Regions from separate parts of the Homo sapiens genome. Here region 1 is linked to region 2. The links come from fine-mapping of genetic effects on gene expression. A gene starts in region 2. The other region holds a variant in brackets. All regions are shown on one strand. Distances are from middle to middle. Region 1 has its middle 44 kb from the start of ALKAL1. Region 2 holds the start of RB1CC1 (RB1 inducible coiled-coil 1).

Region 1 (8,343 bases), 100 kb before region 2:
CTGCATCAATCCCAGCACTTTGGAAGGCCGAGCCTGGTGGATCACTTGAAGTCAGGAGTTGGAGACCAGCCTGGCCAACATGACAAAACCTTGTCTCTACTAAAAATACAAAAATTGGCCAAGGGTGGTGGTGGGTGCCTGTAATCCCAGCTATTTGGGAGGTTGAGGCATGATAATCGCTTCAACCCTGGAGGGAGAGGTTGCAGTGAGCCGATATCATACCACTGCACTCCAGCCTGGGCAACCAAGCAAGACCCTGTCTCAAAAAAAAAAAAAAAATTGAATTTTTCCCAGAAGACAAAAGCCACTCAGAAGTAGGTGGGATTAAACTATTAAGGTGACTTTGAGAGTAGTCTGTGATTTTGACCAATGAGCAACACAATTTTTGGTTTCTGCTTTCTCTTTTGATACATTCTCTTCTAAAGTTAAAGAAAACAGGTTCCAACTCAAAATTTCGTGGCATCTTTTGAGATAATTTGACCTATTTATCTATTGATTGTAGTGATTTTCTTGTTCATTTGTGTTTATTTTTAATTGTATAAAATAGTAAGCCTTTCTCATATTTGTAGAAATAATATTTCTTTGTGCAATGTTGGGCATTTCATTTTCATTATGGTATGTACTAAAGAGAATTTTTCATTTGTGTGTGGAAATATCCACCTGTTTTTAATTTACAGTATTTAATCCTAGAATTCTTGTTTTTTAATGTTGTCTGCAATTTGTAGCTTCAGTTCATCTGGATATTATTTTGGGGTATTGATGTGATGAGGAGCTAAATTGATTTTTTTTTTTTTAGAAGCAATGCAGTTGTCTCCCTTGACTAATTTTATAAGGTGTGCTGATTTGGCTAAGTTGGTCTCATTCCTCTGATGCTTTATGAAAAGGATTCAGTGGACTCAGCTTCCCCCCTCTTTTAATGGTCTTGCAGTCTAAAATGATGGTTTCAGCCCCTAGGCAGAGACAGCTGCGGACCTGTTGTCACGGGAAGAAGTGAATGCCCTGATGGTGGTGTGCACTGAATAATGCTTCAGGGGTTCTACCAGGCAGATTGGCAGGGGCTGGCTTTAAAAACTCAAAATAAATCATCCTGTTATCATCCTTTCACCATCCACAAAGATAAAACTGCCTTTCTCTTTTTCATGCAAATACCTCCTAGGCTATAAGCTACATCATTTAATTTTTTAAAAGGGTGGATCATTTGTTCTGAGCACTGAATCTTTTCTCGGGGTGCTGTTAATGATTGCAGCAATGTACATATTTTTAAAATGTCACCTTTGCAAAGTGTCATATTTTCCCCATTTCCTTTCTTTGAATTCCCCTTTTCTACCATATTTATCCTGTGAGTAGACAAAGACAAAGGGTTCTGTTGTCTGAAACTGCATCAGGATAGATTTAGGCTAGACACAAAGAATGTTTCCAAAATAAAATACACTTGTTTTGGGCACCTTTGCCAGCTGCTGCTCTTACCTTCCTGGACTCATAGCTTAATGCGACAGGCATAAAGACAGGATGCTGAATTCTAGACAAACACATGCAAAGTCAGACAGTAAGTAAAAAAAAAAAAAAAAAAAAAAAAATTCTAAGGCAGCTTCAGGTTTAGCAAATACCTTAAAGTAGTGGTCCAATCTGATGCTTAACACGTTTGATTTTGGGAAACTAAAGGGAAGGTAGTGGCCACTTTGGAATGAGAAGAGTCAAAATCAACTGGGGTAGAGGATTGGGGCTACAGCCTCTCAACTCTATACCCCTTTCCTTTCATAGTAGATACTTAAAAGTAAATCTGTTGTGAATAAAATAGATTTTACATCTGGGTTAAAGGGAGAATAATACCGCTTGTTGTCAAAAATGGGAAGTGAGGAGTAGGAGTTTGAGACAAGGTAATTTCTATTTGTCTGTAATAGTTGAATTCCTGAAAAATTAATAAAGTTCATGGTCCTGACCCTGGGCTAGTTCATTAACCTCTCTACACTTCAGTGTCCTTATAAATAAAACACACACACACACACACGCACAGATAGAGAGAGAGAGAGAGAGAGAGAGAGAGAGAGAGAGAGAGAGATTGATTTTATTTCCAGGTTGAAAAACATGGTTAATCTAGGTCCTGACTATAAGAATTAAAGAAAGAGGAAACAAACACAAAGGATGGCTTGCCAGTCAAGATGGGCTTATTTTAGAGAAAACAAACCTGAGAGGGGTGTCTGGCAGAGTTAGGTCAGAGAGTTTTTAAGGATTCAGGGTAGAGAGTTTATCAGACACTTGGACTGTTTCTGTATCTCTTTGTGGTGCTTATCTGGGAGGGAGAGTTGTGTGTCTGTTCCCATTCATCTTTCCGCAGCTGCAGGCATATCCCCTGAGTCTGCTTTTAGCTTCCCTATTTCAGTGCACCTGAAGGGAAAGGAATGTGCTTATTAAGGCCCACTGTTTTACTGGGGCCCATTGTATGAGGGTGAAGTTTGGCAGTTACCCAAAAGACTTTACCCTCACCTCCCTCTGTGCCCAAGCTGTCTTATCTGTGTTTTACTGCCTGCTCTTTCTGGCTGCTTGTAGTTAGAAGAGAAGTGATTACCTTAAAATACATGATGCTAGAAAGGGAGCTGGAACTTAAAGTGATGGTGTTTGTCCAAGATGATGGTGCTCTTGCTCGGTCACTGACTCAACTCAATTTTTGAAATTCTAGGAAAGAAATAGGTGGTTAAGATAATTTGGAGCTAAAATTCTGAACAATGCTAATCTGAACAGTGTCAACAGAAACAAAAGGGACTTAGGAGCTTGCTAAGACTTCATTTAAGGGAAAGCATGGAATGGATAGAAATAAATGAAGCCATAGACACTTATGGGAAAATAAAGCATATACATACATACATATATATATATATATATATATATATATATATATGCATATATATGTATGTATTGAGACCCATATATGTATATGTAAGAAAATATAAAGCATACATATATGCATATATATGTATGTATCGAGACCCATATATATATGTGAGAATATATAAATCAACCATTTTAGTTCTTTTTAAAAAAGGAATGAGGTGGAACACACATATGAAGTCTGTGAATACGCACAGTTAACCCTACTCTGATGAAAATGTACATTATATCTGGCATCTAAAAAATCCCTCTCATGCCCCTTCCTAAAAAATGGACTTATGTCATCACAGTTCATTTGTCTGTACTTGAACTTCATATAAATGAAGTAATTCAATATGTAATCATTTGTATCTGTTATCTTTAACTCATTATTATGTCTGTGAAATTACTTCATGTCATGTGTACCAACAGTTCATTCATTCACTTAAAGACAGGGTTGCTATGTTGCCCAGACTGGCCTCATACTCCTGGTCCTAAGGGATCTTCCCACCTCAGTCTCCTGAGTAGCTGGGACTACAGGCATGCACCACCACACCCAGCAATAATTCATTCTTTTAAACTGCTACATAATACTCTGCTGTGTGAGTATACCACAATAGATTTATGCATTCTTTTATTGAAAAGCATTTGGGTTGTTTCCAGGTTTTATCTACAAACATTATTTTACATGGCTTTTGGTGAACATATGTACTCATTACTTTTGGGTAAATATTTAAGTGAGATTGCCATGTCAGAGTGCAGGATTACATTTAGTTGTGAAACATACTGTCACATTTTTCAAATTACTTCCCATCTGTAGTATATGAGAATTCCAACTGCCTCCCAAGAATCTTTGCCAACAGTTGTTATTGTTGGTCTTTTGAATTTGAAGCATTCTAGTGGGTGTGCAGTGGTACCACATTGCAGTTTTTATTTGCATTGTCCTGATGACTAATGATGTTGAGCACTTATTAAAAATAGTCATTATAACTGGTCATTTGGTATCCTCTTTTATGAAGAATCCATTCAACACCCAGTTTTGCCCATTTCTAAAATTCACCTATTTGTCTTTTTCTTATTGATTCATGGGAGTTATTTATATGTTCTGGATACTAATCTTTTGTTGGATCCATATATTGCATATGTCTTGAGTCTAGGACTTGCCTTTTCACTCTCTTAATGGGGTCTTTTGATGAACAGAAGTTCTTAGTTTTCATCTAGTCCAATGTATCAATATTTTCTTTTATATTTTTAAAATTTTCCTGTTTAAGAATTTTTTTCTTCCCAGGGAAAAGAAGGTATTTGTCTATGTTTTCTTCCAAAAGTTTTATTGTTGTATCTTTCCCATTTAGTTCTGTGATCCATTCCAAATAAATTTTTGTGTCTTAAATAAACTTTGCGGATAGCATGCAGTCAAGGAGAAGGTTCATTTATTTTTCACCTAGCACCTTTTATCAAGAACACTTTTCTTTTCCTACTGAATTGCACTGGTGCCTTGGTAATAAATCAGGAGACCATATATATGTGGGTCTATTTCTGTACTCTGTTTTCCACTTTACTTTGTGAGCACAAATGAGGATGGATTTAAAGTACTGGATAGTAGTTTCCCAAAATGCTATTTTTAGATTGCGACATGAATTGTTTTGTCTTGATAGAGTTCTTTTGATTCTTTTCCCTGACTTACTTTCCATCTCTTTATAAGGAAAAAGATAGCAGTGAGCTCCAGAACATGCACTGACAGTGGCAACCCTAGAATTTTTTTCCATCAATTCTGTTGTATTTTTCTTATACAGTTTAATAATATAAAATTTAATATGTTGCTTAATCCAATACACAGAAAGGGAAGCGAAATTATACAAGTACTAAGAA[G/T]ACTTTATTTTGCATTTTCACAGTTCAAATTCATTTTCTATATTCATGACAGTATATACGAACATCTAGAAATATCCTACAAATGTTTTGAGATCTGAGAGAAATATCAGATACTGCTATAATCTAGAACTTTAACTTTTCCTATTTTTTAATGCATAAAGAAAAAATTACATCACTTTAATGTTAGCATTCAATTATAGTTATGCAATCTCTATTGCAATGACAATATTTAAAATTATCTTTTAATTAGGAGAGTACATTTTTGGCTCCTGCTTGTGAATGAAAACATGAGCTACAAGAAGAAATATTTATATACACTTTGGCTGTGATTTTTTATGAACTGATTCCATATATTCTTTATAAACTGACAAATAAAAAGAACTCTCCTGGCCAGGCGTGGTGGCTCACGCCTGTAATCCCAGCACTTTGGGAGGCCGAGGTGGGCAGATAACGAGGTCAGGAGATCGAGACCATCCTGGCTAACATGGTGAAACCCCATCTCTACTAAAAATACAAAAAATTAGCCAGGTGTGGTGGTGTGCGCCTGCAGTCCCAGCTACTCGGGAGACTGAGGCAGGAGAATCACTTGAACCCAGGAGGTGGAGGTTGCAGTGAGCCAAGATTGTGCCACTGCATTCCAGCCCGGGTGACAGAGCAAGACTGTTTCAAGAAAAAAGAAAAAAAAAAAAAAAAGAACTCTCCTGATTTAATTATTAATCAGTTTCCCTGATGCATCTGGTGTAACTAATATACCTAATTCAATTCTCTACAAGTACTTGGTCACTGAACTCTTAATGTCTTCTGAAAAGTTCTAATGTCCATCTCAGAATACACCTGGCTCCCATAAGGACAAATACATTAAGCAACAAGTGCAGCTTTAATTGTAAAATTATGGATTTCTCTTTTCCCTAGACTCACTCTTGCTTCCTTGAAATGTTAGATGAGACCTTATAAGGTTCCACCTAACAAACACTGATAGAGAGCAGCTGAGTAAATGACATCTATGTCAATAGTTTAGGCAAAGAAGGTTCTGCTAGGATAAACTGAAAGTAACTGGGCATTGTTCATTAGAAGCCAATTTGGGCTAATTATCACTGTGGAAAGTCTACGGTTTGTTGCATCCATGACATACGCAAAGTAAAGACCAAAAAGGAACCTCAGTTTTGCCTGAGATCTTTCTGTGAAGATCTTAGTTTTTAAGATAAGCCAAATACAGCTAAAGGAGATAGATGTGGAAGAAGTGACAAAGCTAATCACTTTCTCAGTTCAGTTATTTTTGAAGCATGTAAACTACCTCAAGAAATGTTGCTGGGCACGGTGGCTCACGCCTGTAATCCCAGCACTTTGGGAGGCCTAGGCAGGCAGATCACCTGAGGTTGGGAGTCGGAGACCAGCCTGACCAACATGGAGAAACCCTATCTCTACTAAAAATACAAAATTAGCCGGGCATAATGGTGCACGCCTGTAATCCCAGCTACTGGGGAGGCTGAGGCAGGAGAATCGCTTTAACCTGGGAGGCAGAGGTTGTGGTGAGCTGAGATCGCACCACTGCACTCTAGCCTGGGCAACAAGAGCAAAACTCCATCTCAACGAAAAAAAAAAGAAAAAAGAAAAGAAATGTTTATGAGGTTTATGAGGCACTTCTGTAACAATCCAAAAAGGGCTCATTTAAATTTTAAGAAGTAATCCTCACAGTTTAAAGAACTTCTCTCATTTGGAAAGAAAAAGATAAGTGTGTGCTTTAAGGTTAGTTCTGTAAAATCTTTAATTCCTATGGGGGAGAAAAACCTCTATATTTCATATATGTTGTGTTTTCCTTAACAACTAGTTTTAGAAAAAAGCAAAATTGAACTGTGAAAATAAAAAAGATTGTTCCCAGTGAATGATTTAAATTATTATTTTTAAAATTAATTTATTTATTTTTGAGATGGAGTCTCCCTCTGTCACCCAGGCTGGAGTGCAGTGGCGCAATCTCAGCTCACTGCAGCCTCTGCCTCCTGGGTACAAGCAATTTTCCTGCCTTAGCCTCCCAAGTAGCTGGGATTACAGGTGCCCACGACCATGCCCAGATAATTTTTGTATTTTTAGTAGAGATGGGGTTTCACCATGTTGGCCAGGCTGGTCTTGAACTCCTGACTTCAAGTGATTTGCCTGCCTCCACCTCCCAAAGTGCTGGGATTATAGACGTGAGCCACTGCGCCTGGAATGAATGATTTAAATTAAAACAAAGATTAAAGTATTTGAAAATATATTTGTTAAAATTATTTTCAAACACAAAATGTGGATACTAAATAATCTTTAGATGTTGCTAACCACCATTAATTTAATTTTACTTTTTTGAGATGGAGTCTTGCTCTGTCACCCAGGCTGGAGTGCAGTGGCATGATCTCAGCTCACTGCAGCCTCCACCTCCCAAGTTCGAGCAATTCTCCTGCCTCAGCCTCCCAAGTAGCTGGGATTACAGGCATGCAGCACCATATCGAGCTAATTTTTATATTTTTAGTAGAGATGGGGTTTCACCATGTTGGTCAGGCTGGTCTTGAACTCCTGACCTCAGGTGATCTGCCTGCCTCGGCATTCCAAAGTCCTGGGATTATGGGCATTAGCCACCACGCCCAGCCTAAACCACCATTAATTTTAGGATGAAAAGTTAAATATTTTATTTGTAAAAGCTTTTATTTGTTGTTTTTGTTTTGTTTTGAGACACGATCTCATTCTGTAGCCAAGGATGGAGTGCAGTGGTGTGATCGCTCACGGCTCACTGCGGCCTCCACCTCCTTGGCTTGAGCAATTTTCCCACCTCAAGTGATCCTCCCACCTCAGCCTACTGAGTAGCTTGGGATCACAGGCACATGCCACCATGCCTGTCTAATTTTTTGTTTTTGGTAGACATGGTGTTTATTTTGCCCAGGCTGGTCTCACACTCCTGGGCTCAAGCAATCCTCCTCCCTCAGCCTCCCAAAGTGCTGGGACTGCAGGCGCGAGCCACCACATCTGGCCCACTTTTCATTTTTAAAAGATAAATACAACCTTTATCCCAAAGAAAAACAGAGGGAAGAGAGTAGAAATGCATTTTAGTGCTTTCTTAAATACACAGGTGTCTTCTGCCATGTCTGAGCAACTTTTTATGGGATTTGGGGATGGGGTGAGATAGGGTGGAGAGCTTACACGCCTTTTTTTTTTTTGTAAAGAAAGATAACAGCAGTATTGACATCGAAGCCTAGGAAGGCACCCTGCAACTTCTCATCAGTGTTTTGAAAGTATGTGGAAGCTTTTTGAAATCTTTCTAGGAATATATAAATATTTCTACAGCACTTTTCAATATGCAAAAATACTTTTACTTAACTTCCTCTCATTGTGAACATCACAGTAAGTTGTGAAGATTATTTCTTATAGATAGGGAAATTAAAGCTAAAAAACTAAGTTGCATAGGCTAACCAGTAATTTCCTTTAGAATCGGGGTTTCAACCCAGGTCTATAAACCAAAAGTGTTCTGCACCTTGTCAGAATGTGACATTGTATCATACCTACAATTCTAGGCAGCAAGAGCTGCATAAAACACTGGAATTTTCTGGAGGAAAGTGGTTCTGGAGATGTCTAAGCTTAAAA
Region 2 (8,343 bases):
TTGAGGAAAAGAACCAGAAAGTATCTCACATACTCATTAAAATCTATCCAACTTATCAAGTGGAGATTTACAATTTTCTCGAGAGATTATCATGATGATAAAGTCAATTATCCCAGCCTTACTGTCAACTATTCTAATACAGTCAAAACTTAGAATTAGGCCAGACACAGTGGCTCCTGCCTGTAATCCCAGCACTTTGGGAGGCCGAGGTGGGTGGCTCACTTCAGGCCAGGAGTTCAAGACCAGCCTGGGAAACATGGTGAAACCCCGTCTCTACTAAGAATACAAGAATTAGTTGGCAGTGGTAGTGCATGCCTGTAATCCCACCTACTGGGAGGCTGAAGTGGGAGGATCATCTGAGCCCACGAGGCAGTGGTTGTAGTGAGCCTAGATCACACCATTGCCTGTCGCCTGCCTGGGCGACAAAGTAAGACTCTGCCTTAAAAAACAAAAACAAACAAACAAAACAGAATTCGCTTCCTTATATGATAAGGTGAAAGGGGGACACCCCAATGACAATCTCTGACCTTCAAAACTGGACACATTCATTATTCATCCACTATTTTGGGGGCATCTAAACATAAGCCAGACACTGCTAGGTGCCTGGAATACAAATATCTTCAAGATGCTTTCCAGCTGAATAGAACACATGAGACTCAGATAACCCTAAAGTGGACTAAAAGCTTCAGAGAAAAGATGATTGGAAATAATTTTGCCTGATCTCTAATTCTGTAAACTGCAATTATTAGCAATTCTCCCTCATTGAGGGGTCACGGGCTACTGCATCAATGGAGATAATGTCCACCACAAACGGAGTGTCTAGGTTGCCCAGGGACTGAAAACTGGGCATCAGTCTCCCCAAATCAGATGTATTCTAATCTGATCCTACCCCTTCTCTGCCAAGAAAAAGAATGAAAGATGAGTAGGTCAGGCATTTTCCTCACATTTCCCTGAAAGAAAACCTTTTTCATAAAAGTTCAGACTTCCTAAATATACGCCTTGTCTACAAACTAGACAAGCAACTTCGCCAAAAGAATGAAGCGAGCATTTAGAAAGGTAGTGCCCAAAGACAGCAAATGAGGTAAAAATAGCAGAACAGGAATACTTTTAAAACAAAAATGAAAAATACTTTGGAGTACACCCTTCAGGTTTTTTTCCCTAGGTGTACAGGAAATATGTGTATATTCAGGCAATATGGTTTTATAAAAATGAGGTGACACCCTACATACTACTATGGACTTTGCTTGAACTGCATAAAATAACAGAAATCTTTCTGTATCAGTACATATAAATGCATTACACATTTTGGTGTCCCTATCGTTTATAAAAACTACATAAAATGCATGATTTTAGTGAAAATTTTCTAGTTGTGTTTTATTTTATAACGGAAACTAACAGTAAAACCAAAATTATCTATATAGCAAATATAGAATTATATAAGACAGGGAAAATGGGGAAAAAAAAGAAAATGTAGAATTAGCTGCATTCTATTAAACCAAGATTATCTATAAACATATAACCAAATTATTAAACCAGCCTGCCCAAATCTGGTATTTGCAGTAAAACAATTACTAAAAGCCGTTATATTACTGTAATATAATATGGTATTGAATTAATATTTCAACAGGTATGCTGGACAGTTACTGAACAAGTATAATGTGTGGAATGTGAAGGAAAAATGAGTGGACAGTCTCAAATCAGTGACAAAAAAAGGAAATGGAACACAATTATTTTTATCTCCTAGCACAATTACAAGCCAATAAAATATGAGAGTTCAAAAGAGCAAACTAACGGGTAGAAAAAAATCATGGATGAAAAAAAATGGGCGAGGATTGTTATTCCACAATCCTCAAAGCACTCACTAAACAGCCATGAAAGCAGAAACAAATTAGCCAAGGAAAGAGGGTACTTGGAGGCATTCAAGTACTGCACTTACAAAAAGTAATCCAACAGAACCGGAACTTTACAAAGGGATAGAAAGAAATGCCATCCTCTCAGGACCCTAAACAATGGGGGTACAGTTTACAGTCAAATTAAGTTGATTTGGTCCATAATAAATAATCAGAGACAAGTAATCTTCACATCCTTTTATCTATGTGAGTTAAGCAAAAACTCATCAACCTAGCACTATACAATCGGCTTAGCTAGCCTTTTATCTACTCTACATCCTCAAAGTAATCTGCGTTTGTCATTTACCTCCATGAAAATTTCCAGTGGTTACCCATTTCCTATAAATAAATATATATACATAGACAGATATGTCTTTCTTGTTCACTGTTGCATTGCTGAAGCTAAAAGAGTATGCTGCAGGGGTTCAATTAGCATTTCAGGAATAAATGAAGTGAATTTGGCTTCAACTGCTTTCCAGCCATGCTGGGTTTACTTGAATTCATCTGTAGACCTTTGTGAGTTAGAGCACATTAGTTTCCTTACTATGACTTCCAAACCTGAATATGTAGAGCCCCACAATCTACCATTACTATCGCCTCTCTCATACCAGTCCAGCTTCAGTAACTTCATTTTTCTTGGTATATGCCATGTATATCAGAGCCTTTCCATTTACTGTTTCTTCTGCCAAAAATTCCTTTCGAGAGTCACACACTTACACCCCTTACTTCTCTTGGGCCTTTATTCAAAAGGCAATCAGTGGCCGGGCTTTGGGAGTCCGAGGCAGGCAGATCACCTGAGGTCAGGAGTTCAAGACCAGCCTGGCCAACATGGTAAAACCCCGTCTCTACTCAAGAACAATTACTTAAACATTTTTATGTTCCTCATGTAACTAGTTCAAAAACCTCACAGTGGTAAAAAGATAATAAAAGAATCGTGAAAGTGTGTTGAAAGGGACTGCTAGATTTTCAAAGTGTCTTAGGCCAGTATTACTACAAAAGAAAAGTGTAACTGGAGTCAGAAAATATCATTACCTGAATGAGAAAATTTTATCAGCCATTCTTTTAAAAAGATATTCATAAGACATACACATCTGCAAAGTAAAGCATGTAGGTGCTCAAATATCTGCTGAATGTATGATATAAAATTTTAAGTTAATATTAGAGTCTAAAAACTTTTCTCAGGCTAACATAATCAAAATTTAGGTTCAAAATTTCGAAAACAAAAGTCTTGTGTCTTCTGCCTTTATGAACTTGATTTGCTAAAGTAAATCTGCCATGCATCCTGATCTTGTGTTTGGCAGCAAGAGCCAAAAAAAAAAAAAAAAAAAACTCAGGGACAAAAGTACCGCTTCATTGTCTTCCCTGTCGTCCAATAACAAACATATAAAGGATTAGGTACATAAATAATCATATCTTGATTACCATAAAAAGTTCAAAATAGACTAAATAAAATTACTTTAAAAATATGAACTATGTCAATATCCACTTTCCATCAACAGAGGTTTCTCAACGTAAGCATTATGTGCCTAAAGCATCCCTGACATAAAACTTTATCCAGGTTTTGAACACAATCACAAACATTAAAAGACATGACAGGAATGTTATTGAGAAAATATCTTCATTAGGGCCATATTCTGTTACAACAAATATAAAAAGCGAACATATTTTCACATTCCTAGCAATGGTCTGCTTATAAATCCAATAATCCAAAAACTAAAATCAGCCACCTCCCTCAGTAGTTCCTTGGTTTCTCACAGTTTTATCTGATCAGAAGTGGAAGGACCCTCTTTTTATCGTCTATCACAATGTAATAACATTCTTGATTAAACACACAATTAAGTCTACTTAAGTCTCTTCCTAAATTGCTAACTGTCCAAACTTATGTATAAATCATACAAGCTTCACCAAAACACAAAAACTTAAGAAACTACACAATAAAATAGTTAGCAAATAGGTACACTTTAAATGTTTGCAGCAGACTTGAGAACATTCCCATCTGGCTGAATGTCTCGTAGTAACGTGACTCTTTATCAACAGTGAGCACATGAGTCTTCCTTGGCAGCCAAGTCTACACTACTTCAAGGTATGACCACACTTTAAAGAGTCATGATGGAAACGACTAGATTACGAAACCATAAACAGTAAACACAGCACATCCACCAGGCGGTGGAAGAAACTATAGAGATATTCCATTCAGAAGCTGCTATTTCTACTGTTGGTTAATGTATTTTTGTTTCTACCAAGGAAGCTGTGAAATCCGCGTGCACACCCATCCCAAATCTATCCGTGGGGCGGGCGCAGGCTGAGTCATTCCTAGGAGTAACTTTATACCGATCCTCGCACTCTGGGGTCGGGACAAAGACATCATCTCTCCGTTCCTCCCATTCGGTGAGCTTCGTTCGGCCTCGGCCAAACTCCACTCTCCCGTTTCTCGAGTCCAACACAGAATTAAGGGCTGATCCCTGGCAGCGATGAGCACAAGTCAAGATGCGTCTTGGGAGGTTCGGACGTCCCTCGCCCTCGGCCACTCCGGCAACTAGGCCGGGTACTAAGCGGCAGCGCAGAGGGAGGGATCCCAAGGCTCCGGCCGAGGAAGCCGCAGGCAGCCCCGCAGCACGAGTCCGACCCACACCTCCGGCAGCCTAGTGGAGCATCGACTCGAACCGCTTTTGTCTCCACAGGGGCTGTCGCGCCGGGAAAGCGGCCAGTGGGCAACACCTGCCGGGGCGGGAGGCGCCGGGGCCCTCCCGTGCACACACCTGCGCGTGGGCCGGGCTCAGGCCGACCGGAACCCTGGACCATGCGACCCCGGCCCACCGTGCCAGGGCCCGCCGCGCGACCGCTGTGCCAGATGGGGGAAGGGGACGCGGGCGGCGGCGACACTTACCCGGCAACGCCTCCTCCTTCGCCGGCGGCAGCAGCAGAGCCAGCGACCCCCGGCACCATCTTCCGCCGCCGCCTAGTCCTCGGCAGCGGTTACCAACCGCCCATTCGGCACCGCTAAGCCGACACAACCGCCGGCGTCCCGGGCGCCCGCCCGCCGCGGCCCCGAACTCTAGGAGGCAGGGAGGGGTCCGGGCGGACAAGGACGCGAGCAGGCCCCTCGGCTCTGGGTCTGGGGCCGGGGGACAGAAGGCCGCGGCCTGTCAGAGCCGAGGGGCCCAGGCGACTGGGGGATTCTGAGGCAACGCCGAGGGCTCGGCAGGGCCGCGGACACCGCCGCGGCTTGGTTTGTTATTGTCGACTCCGTCTCTTCCTCCGCGGCGCATGCCGGGAAACGGCCTGCCGGGGGAGGGGCGCGCCTGGAGGCGCAGAGAGGCGTCTACGCAGGTCCGGAAGTCGGCAGCCTGCCGGGAAGGGGGCGGCCCCGCCTCCGGCTCTCCGGCCGGCAGGTTGGCTGTCCTGGCCTGACCCTGGGAGACTCCGCTGGGGCCGCCTGTTATGGTGCTAGCTGCCGTCCCGGTGCGTACTTTCCCAAGGTGAATTTGACCTTCTTTGCGACAGCTAGGCCCTGACTAAGGTCGACCCACCAAACACTGGATCGTCCCCAGGCGAAAGAGAGCTTGTTCCCCTCAGCCTGTCGCGGAGGAGCGGAGCCAATCGAGGGTCTGGTGTCCCCGTCGCCTCTCCAGGGGCAACCTGCGGACTAGGCCAAGGTCTGTAACAGGATAACGTACCAGCGCCTGGCCCAGGCGTTCCTGCCGCCACCTCCCCGCATATCCGGACCGCCGGGACTGCACGCAGCTGGCAAGCGTCCCCCTGTTAACTCTGCAAGGGTGGGGCGGCACCATTTCTCAGACCAGGTAAGGCAAGAAAACATGCAAGAGAGAAGAGAGGGAAGCCTAGGCCAATCGGAATGAAAATGTAAACGCCACAACCACGTTTTCAGCTTTACAAATACTGAATCTTGTAGTGGGTCTAGTGGGTTAGGGGTTAGCATGAGCACCCTAATGGTTGGGAGACAGTTTCAGGGGACTCTTGCATTTGTGAAGATGATCAGTCACAGGCAATGACTTGAAGCCACGAGGCTTGAATATTAAAATCTGATGAGCAGATGTTACACGTAGAATAATTACATAATAGTTCTCAAATTCCTGTTATATCCAGGAATATCTGGTATGAGTGAAAACTTGGAGGTGCCTTCTCTAAAGTCATCAGGAATTCTGAGTTGTGTTTGTAAAAATAGGAGGCACAAGAGGGCACCAAACTGAACAAAATGTTAGGTGGAAACTGAAAAACGTTGGTTAGCATGAACAATTTCAGTTTTCAGTCACACTGACCAGTATCTGTAAGTTAGGATTGAGATGGGCTTGTTTTATTTATTTACTTTTAAATTTGTGCTGCTACATATCCCAAACAAATGTGGTCTTTATCATCACTGGCAAGCCATTTTACTTATTGGTTAAGCTGGAATTTTATTACACCACCCCAGCAAGATAGAGGAGAAAAGCGAAAATTAAGTAGTAAATGGTTATTATGCCTTAAGGGAAGGTGTGAACTGGCAAGACAAAAGAGCCAAATTTAGTAGTAAAGCATAGTCATCAGCACACAGAAAATAAGTGGTGAGGAGGAGTTTGGCCAGAAAATTGGCTAAGAAAAATGGCAGTATGACCAAGAATGAAAAGAAAAAGAAAGAAAAGAAAAACTGCAGTATGAGGCCTGTAAAGAACGTATTGGTACTTGCACTTCCTCTTATTAGTGACATTCATTATTACAAATATAACCCAATTTAGAATGTAAAAATCTTGCTGGAGCTCGGTGCAGTGGCTCACACCTGGAATCCCAGCACTTATGGGAGGCCGAGGCAGGAGGATTGCTTGAGCCCAGGAGTTGGAGACCAGCCTGGGCAACGTAGTGAAACCCCTTCTCTACAAAAAATACAAAAATTAGCTGGGCGTGGTGATGCACACCTGTGGTCCCAGTTACTCAGAAGGCTGAGGTGGGAGAATCAGTTGAGCCCAGGAGGTCGAGGCTGCAGTGAACCATCATGGCACCACTGCACTCCTAGCCTGGACAACAGATTGTTGCCCTGTCTGAAAAATAAAAAAAAATTTCTGAACTATGCCAGTGATAATCTGGTAAATTATAAATGTTGTCTGACTTTTTTCTTTGGAAAATGAATTAATTCAGTCCTAACCTTCTCTCTTAATCACAGGTTGCAATAAATTACCAGAAACGACTGGTTCATACCTTATACACCTCCAGTGTAAATGTTAAGAGTTTGTATATTCTTAACAGACTCTTAACAAACATCAGTAATTCTTTCCTAGGGATAAGTGAAAATGTACTAACATTAATTCTATTATATATATGCAAATATCTAGAGGAAATACTGTTTATAAGTTACTAATACATGTATCCATGGTAGTAGGTCTTGAAAAGTTACTTTTGTTGCCTATTGGACACCCTCTATTCTCCCTTCCTTAATAAAACAAAAAAAAGAACAAACAAAATTCTGTAGCATCACTTCTCAACCAAGCTTTCTGATAGGAAGTCCTCAGTCCAATCTCATTTTTGGCCTACTGTGCATTTCTTACTTAACTTGCAAACAGATCATTAACAAGGACCTCCAAATTACAGTAAATTACAGTACTAAGATTTTACTTGAACTTTCTAAAGCATTCGCCATTTTAAATTATTTAACTTTTATACTCCTCCTTCCCTTTTGTGCTGTTTCCTTCCTGGCGCTCCTAAATATCTGTCCATTCTTTGGACCTCTTCCAAATTTTCAGATAATTATAATAGTGTGCGAATGATGCAAAGGTAATGTGCCGTGGGAGAGAACAGAAGAGAGAAACCTAATTCTGGCCTCATCACATTATTGTTTTTTTAAATTTAATAACTATTTTAGATGCTTCAGTAGATTTACAGTGAGGGCAAAAGAAAACAGTTTTCTTTAGGAGTATGGAGGGATTATATAGGATGTACAATAAATACCCTAAGTACTTCAAATCAGTTCAGATCTTTAAAATCCTATTTTTCCTTCAGTTCTCAACTTCAATATCACCTACTCTGGGAGTCATTCCCTACCATGCTTGTTTGTTTGTTTGTTTGTTTGTTTGTTTGTTTTGAGACAGAGTCTCACTCTGTTGCCCAAGCTGGAGTGCAGTGACACCATCTCTGCTCACCGCAGCCTCTACCTCCCAGGTTCAAACGATTCTCTTGTCTCAGCCTCCCTAGTAACTGGGATTACAGGCACTTGCCACCACTCCCGGCTACTTTTCATACTTTTATTAGATGGGGTTTCACCGTGTTGGCCAGGCTGGTCTCGAACTCCTGATCTCAAGTGATCCACCCGCTTCAGCCTCCCCCACAGTGCTGGGATTACAGGAGTGAGCCACAGCACCTGGCCACATGCTTGTAATTTCTTTAGATTCTCACATTGTATCTTTCAGTGTCATCTAACATGCTGACTATAAGCTCCTTTTTAAAAGATGTACTGTACCTGGTATAT

What was found. PIP is the estimated chance that this variant, and not a neighbour inherited with it, causes the effect.
Region 1: its variant is the best candidate, but not a certain one, in a credible set for the expression of RB1CC1 in whole blood (INTERVAL, PIP 0.80).

The regions. Positions count from the first base shown.
Region 1 is chr8:52,605,235-52,613,577 of GRCh38, forward strand. No RefSeq gene overlaps it. Among named protein-coding and RNA genes, the nearest start is that of ALKAL1, 44 kb to the left of the region's middle. The variant G/T (reference allele first, on the strand shown) is at 4,735.
Region 2 is chr8:52,709,299-52,717,641 of GRCh38, forward strand. It overlaps RB1CC1 (RB1 inducible coiled-coil 1), which reads right to left and starts at 5,137. Exons shown (of 24, transcript NM_014781.5): 1 at 4,777-5,137. RefSeq lists silencers at 4,592-5,061, 5,092-5,261 and enhancers at 5,322-5,631, 5,652-5,701.